Homo sapiens: one gene and its partner. The protein of the gene in region 1 purifies or fractionates together with the protein of each later gene. This does not show direct contact. Each region holds a gene or a part of one and is shown on either strand. Other genes may lie near its edges.

Region 1 (3,500 bases):
AGACTATGCATAATTCTTCATGGCACCTGCTGGGCATTGCTGGGAGATGCTGAAATCATTCATCAATTTTCTCCTTTTTATGCTATTCAATTAGTCTGTCTAGGGCAAGGTCTAGAATGTGTATCAATCAAAAGCATAATAATGACCTGTGTACAAGCTATCTCCATACTAATGATTTGCATCCACTATCTTACAGAAAGAGCTTTGGTCTAAGAAAGCACTGAAGTGCAGGAAACTTTAAGGAGAATATTGTAGTAAGGCCTGAGAATTACCCAGAGTTACTGTTGTCAATAGTGTAATGATGAATTTGAAATCAATTTGGCAGTATCTTTAGTGGAAAAATAATATTAAGAGAATACTCATCACTATAGCCTATTTTGCATTGTCTTAGATAAAATTTTTCTTCAGCCTGCACTGAAAACTTAAATGTCAGTAGACTTTTAGTATATGGACTTCTAGTTTGTTGAAATTATGTGTAGCATGTTTAGTTTTTAATTTAATTCCAATTATTAAGCCAATTAAAACTATTTGGATATAATATTTAAATCAGAATCCAAATACGGCATACATATATTTTTCTTTTAAGAAGTAGTTGTACTATAATACAATATTGGCCTTAAATTTTATCTAACAGTTTATCACGGAAAGTTAAATAATTAATCATCAGAATAGCATTTAGCCAAAAATCCCACGTACCATATACATGGTAGTCTATAGAGCTCTGCAGAAGTGAGTGATTACAGCTACTGTAAAATTTTGTCATTCTATAAAGTAGTTATTGACAAAATAAATGACTGTGTTTTTCCATGTTATATGCAAATTGACAAAGATAATATCTGATAAAATGGAAAACACCAAGAGACTTAGAACTTTAGAATATATCAAACCTACACCAAAATATCATTAGCAACACCCTTTCAGTAGAATCCCACAGCATTAGACAAATTAATAGAGAGAATCTTTTACAAACATTTGTTGCATAAAATATTTTAATTGAAACAATTAATGAATTCCATAAGATACGTGTAAATTTACAAGATTTCCATTTTTCAATACTTACATGAAAAGATGTGATAACAGAGCCACTAAGTATAGGTAAGAAATATTAAACTTGTTTAGCTATTATTCTAAGTTTCTATTCATTTCTCACTAACCTACATTGATTTTTGTACTGCTTTTATTCATCCCATAAATTAGATTCTAACTGGTGATAAAATGTCAAAGTTTGTATCGTTCATCTAAAAAATAAATCTAGACAATTTGGAATTATTTAAAAATTAACCAATAAAGTATGATCCATTGGTTCTTTTGTGAGTGCTTGGGTGGAAAAGGAGACATATTAGTACATTAGTAAGGTGTTTCTTTTTCTTTAATCACCAGGAGAAAAGATATATAAATCTGTTTCTTAAAGCTTTTTTCTTTCCCATGGAGACAACACACCTTAAAATGAAGGTTAACAAGCAATTAATAGCACAGACTTAACTAAATATTGCAAATGTGATAGTATAATATCTTGGTAAATATGGGAATTTTGAGAGCCATAAAATTAAAGACTTTGATATGTGTGAGATCAATAGACATGACTTATCACTATTTAATATGAGCTTTAATTTTTAAATGCCATGTTCCAATGAAAAAGTATATTACACAGGAAAATTGAAATTTCAATAAAGAATCAAGACAAAAGAAACAAACTTTATATTAAAGTACCTTTAAAGGTTGTACTTACGCAGCAACTTCCTCTTTTGATAATCCTTTGAAATTTACCTCTAGATAATGATCTATGTCATCTTTTTCTTTGATCAATTGAGACCTAAATGAAATAGAAAGAAATAATAAAGCACAGCCTTATCAAGTTGAAAAGCTACCAAACACATAAAATGCCACCAGGAGAATAGAAATATTCAGGGTATAATACCATATGTAATAAACGCAATAGCTATAGAGTTAGGTCGTTGGTTGATCATTTCAAAATTTTATCTTTCCTGAATGGAAAATGATAAGGAAGAATATTAAACCCAGTGTGTAAACAAATAAAACACCAACACCTTGAAATAATTCACTTTCTACTCAAGAGTCTTCTCAAAGCTTACAAGACCTTCTATTTTGCTCACATTTTTTCGTGGTGTAACTTTCCAACTGCTGAAGTTATATATTGTTTGGCACAGAATCCTGAGCCAAGAACACCTGTTTGATTCAAATGTGTAACGTGAATTTATTCCAAACATTACTCAATTTTGTCCTGAAATGTTCTTTGAATAGTTTTTTTAATCACACATAAAACTCAAATTATTAAAGGTTCAAGGTGCAAAATGATTTTAAGAAGCCCTTATTGAAAATGTATTATACTTGTAGTGCGTTCATTCTTCACACCCTTTTGCACCTTTAAAAATAAGCATGCTATCAACCTCTCATAACTATGATGATTGATATGGAACTAAACAAATATCAGTGTTTTATTCAGAAGCTATTAAAGAATGTTGATACAAACTTTGCCTTTTGTGGGTATGATAAAAATATTTTTCTTCAATAAAATGAATACAAGAAAACGTTTTCTTTAAAACTCATCCTAACCTAAGGATATGAGATTTGGCTATGCTTTTGCTCACCTTGAAAACAAAATATAAATTAAATCCTTTAAAAAGACAGAAAGAATAAGCTTTTTCAGACTTCATAAATATTTTACATTATTCAAAAGTAAAACAAAAATATGTATGTATATATATTATAGTGTACACACATGAATTATGCATTCATTGAAAGATTTCTCCGCTATAGGAAAAGAAAATTTTGATTTACTATTTTTAAAGAATTTTTATGTTAGTTTAGCTGAATGTATTTATTTTGTTCCAGGGGCTTTGGTATTTCCTAGAAATACTAAAAATGAGGCATGAGAACAAAGAAACCTCCTAATACTTTGATCATTATGCCTTGCAGGAATGGAAAAGTAGGCATATAAAGAAAATAAACCTACGTATGCAAACTATTTATATTGGTAACTAATATGTATGTTACTAAAAGTCAATAGAATTACAAATGGCAATTTCAAAATAGCACAATCAGTTAATATGATAATTATGACAAAATGTATCAATTTCTCTGTCCTGCATTTCCTCAGTGACAATTTGAGTAGCTCAGCAGCCATTCATGGGCAGCAGCAGTTTGATGATGCATTTTCAAGCCCCAGCATCATTTCAGGAGCTGATTCTTGCCTGCCAATCTACCCTACAAGTAAGGCTCTACCCTCCTTCTTCCAAAACAGAAGTCAGCCCTTGGGACCTTGTAGATTAAAAGCATTACACCTTTCAGTCTGGGCATGGCGGCTCATCCCTACAATCCCAGCATTTGGGGAGGCCAAGGCGGGTGAATCACTTGAGGCCAGGAGTTCAAGACCAGCCTGACCAACATGGTGAATCCTGTCTCTACTAAAAATACAAAAACTTAGCTGGGCATAGTGCTGCGTGCCTGTGGTCCCAGCTACTCAGGAGGCTGAGGCACGA
Region 2 (3,500 bases), on another chromosome or scaffold:
ACAGGCGTGAGCCACCACACCTAGCCATCTTTTTCTTATGACAGTATCACTCTTTTGCCTAGGCTGAAGTGTAGTGGTGCAATCAGGGTTCACTGCAGCCTCAACCTCCCAGGCTCGAGTGATCCTTCCACCTTGGCCTCTCGAGTAGCTGGGACTATAAGCGCACGCCCCCAAGTCTGGGTAATCTTTTTTTTTTTTTTTTTTGAGACAGAGTCTTGCTCTGTTGCCCAGGCTGGAGTGCAGTGGCACAATCTTGGCTCACTGCAAGCTCTGCCTCCCGGGTTCACGCCATTCTCCTGCCTCTGCCTCCCGAGTAGCTGGGACTACAAGCGCCCGCCACCATGCCCAGCTAATTTTTTGTATTTTTAGTAGAGATGGGGTTTCACTGTGTTAGCCAGGATGGCCTCGATCTCCTGACCTCGTGATCCACCTACCTTGGCCTCCCAAAGTGCTGGGATTATAGGCGTGAGCCACTGCACCCGGTTAAGCCTGGCTAATTTTATTTTGTAGAGATAGGGTTTTGCCATGTTGCTCAGGTTGGTCTTGAACTCCTGGGCAAGCACTCCACCTGCCTCGGCCCCTGAAAGTGCTGGGATTACTGGTGTGACTGTGCCCCATCCTCTTTTATGTTTATCCAACTTAGATCCCTTTAGCTGCAACTGAGGCCCCTCCCTTTTGTGTTTTTTTTTGAGATAGGAGTCTCACCACCACACCCTGCTAATCCTTATATTTTTAGTAGAGATGGGGTTTCATCATGTTGGTCAGGCTGGTCTGGAACTCCTGACCTCAGGTGATCCAACTGCCTCAGCCTCCCAAAGTACTGGGATTACAGGCATGAGCCACTGTGCCCGGCCTGGCCCCTCCCCACTTTTTTTTTTTTTTTGAGACAGAGTCTCGCTGTCGCCCAGGCTGGAGTACAGTGGTGCAATCTCGGCTCACTGCAGGCTCCGCCTCCCGGGTTCACACCATTCTCCTGCCTCAGCCTCCCGAGTAGCTGGGACTACAGGCGCCCACCACCATGCCTGGCTAATTTTTTGTATTGTTTAGTAGAGACAGGGTTTCACCGTGTTAGCCAGGATGGTCTCGATCTCCTGACCTCATGATCCGCCCGCCTCAGCCTCCCAAAGTGCTGGGATTACAGGAGTGAGCCACCGCGCCCGGCCAGCCCCTCCCTTTTTTTAAAAAAGGAGATGGGGTCTTGCTATGTTGCCCAGGCTGGCCTCGAACTCCTGGGCTCAAGAAATCCTCCCAAATTAGCCTCTGATGTAGCTGGCACTATACGTACGTGCCACCATGCCTGTCTGCCATTTTGTTTTGACCCAGCGACCATAAGAAGTTTCTTTTTTTTTTTTTTTGAGACGGAGTCTCGCTCTTTCGCCCAGGCTGGAGTGCAATGCTGCTATCTTGGCTCACTGCAAGCTCCATCTCCTGGGTTCACGCCATTCTCCTGTCTCAGCCTCCTGAGTGGCTGGGACTACAGGTGGCCGCCACCGTGCCTGGCTAATTTTTTGTATTTTTAGTAGAGACGGGGTTTCACCGTGTTAGCCAGGATGGTCTCGATCTCCTGACCTCATGATCCGCCCGCCTCGGCCTCCCAAAGTGCTGGGATTACAGGCGTGAGCTACTGCGCCCGGCCGACCATAAGAAGTTTCTAAGTCAGCCTTTTTTTTTCCTTTTCTGAGATGAAGTCTCATTCTGTCACCCAGGCTGCAGTGCAGTGGTATGATCTCGGCTCACTGCAAACTCCGCCTCCTCGGTTCAAGTCATTCTCCTGCCTCAGCCTCTCGAGTAGCTAGGATTACAGGCGTATGCCACCACAACTGGCTAATTTTTGTATTTTTAGTAGAGACGGGGGTTCACCATCTTGGCCAGGCTGGTCTCGAACCCCTGATCTCAGATGAACCGCCCACCTTGGCCCCCAAAGTGCTAGGATTATAGGCGTGAGCCACCGTGCCCAGCTATGTCAGCCTTCTCAGAAGGGACTTCATGCTAAACCTGTGTGTTTCCCGTCCGTCTTCCTTCTTTGTGTACTTGTTTGGTGAGAGAATGATCTAGAACACCCTCATTTCTGATTCCCTTCTAGGCACCGAGATCATTCAACCAAGGAAATCCACTGAGCAGGATAATGCTGCAGCACACACCTCGCTTAGTTCAGGGAAATTGTCCTGCTGACAGAAGGGGCACTGCCACAGCCCTGTCTCATCATTGCGGATCGCCTGGTCATAGCTCTCACCCTGGGGACGCCTGTGGGCAATGCCAGTGACATTGCAGATGATGAGCTTTCCTGCAAGAAGGAAAAGAGGATGGGGAGCAGGCTCAGAGAATGTGGAGAGCACTTCTTTCCACCAGCCTTTCAGTGACAGAATATCTGACTTCCTTCCCATCCTTGAAGAGGGAACTCTTCCCGATTTTTATTTATTTATTTATTTTTGAGATGAAGTCTTGCTCTGTTGCCCAGGCTGCAGTGCAGTGGTGCTATCTTGGCTGACTGTAACCTCTGCCTCCCAGGTTCAAGGAATCCTCCTGCCTCAGCCTCCCGAGTAGCTGGGATTACAGGTGCCCACCACCACGCTCAGCTAATTTTTTATTTTTAGTGGAGATGGGGTTTCACCATGTTGCCCAGACTGGTCTCGAACTCCTGGCCTCAAGCAGTCTGCCTGCCCTGGCCTCCCAAAGTGCTGGGATTACAGGCATGAGCCACTGTGCCTGGCCGTTCCCCTGATTTGATGATAGGGGAAAATAAAGCCTATAAGAAGACTAACTGCATGAAGATTCCATAGCACACTGGAAGCACATTTGACCTTAAATTCAGTTTTGATTTCCAGTCCAGGACTCTTTAGTCTTTTAAAATGCTCTCCTGGCCTTCCCCATGTACAACACAAACCTGCCTCAATCTGTTGGAACTGCTGCTTGGTTTGAATGTACACAGTAAACACACCTCCTGCCCCCAATAAAAAAATGACCCCAGAATTTACCAATGTAGAAGGTCTCTGGTGTTTCTTTGGTTAACATATTGAAGATCTCCTCTGTGTTGGGAGAGCGGTAGGCTGTCCGGAGGTCCTTATATCGACAGCTCAGCTCTGCCCGGATGTCATAGAGTGTGATGTGTTTGTCACCATAGCCCTGGGGAAGAAGCCCATCAAGAAGAGCCTTGCAGCTGCCCCCCAACCTGAGCCTCAAGGAGTCCCGTGGAAGGGGCGGGCCTCTCCAGATGGGAGTAAGTTTCTGTCAGGGCTTCTTCTTTTCTTTCCATCAACATTTACTAAAGGTGGTTTTCAAACTTAGCCATGAAACACTGTAATCAAAATGCTTTATGGAACCCCAATGAGTCCACAGATAAATGCAAAGCTGTGCTGTTAGAAAGGAGGAAAGGGGGCCTAGACGGAAACTGTAGTACTGACATCCTCCCAACTCCCTCCTGCCCCTTGTAATTATGGTGGCAATCTCTGAGACTTCCCTGGCTCCTTAACAAGCAGACCAAAAACTTCCTTGAGGAGCCC

What was found. The genes of interacting proteins can lie anywhere in the genome.
Region 2: the proteins of TTC29 (region 1) and SUPT6H purify together in Homo sapiens (affinity purification with mass spectrometry; 3 studies listed by BioGRID and IntAct, with this or other methods). This does not show direct contact.

Annotation. Positions count from the first base shown.
Region 1 is NC_000004.12:146,935,865-146,939,364, forward strand, and holds part of TTC29 (tetratricopeptide repeat protein 29), read right to left. Parts: intron 1,814-3,500; coding exon 1,730-1,813; intron 1-1,729. UniProt on the Homo sapiens protein: Axonemal protein which is implicated in axonemal and/or peri-axonemal structure assembly and regulates flagellum assembly and beating and therefore sperm motility.
Region 2 is NC_000017.11:28,689,705-28,693,204, reverse strand, and holds part of SUPT6H (transcription elongation factor SPT6), read right to left. Parts: intron 3,124-3,500; coding exon 2,976-3,123; intron 2,285-2,975; coding exon 2,142-2,284; intron 1-2,141.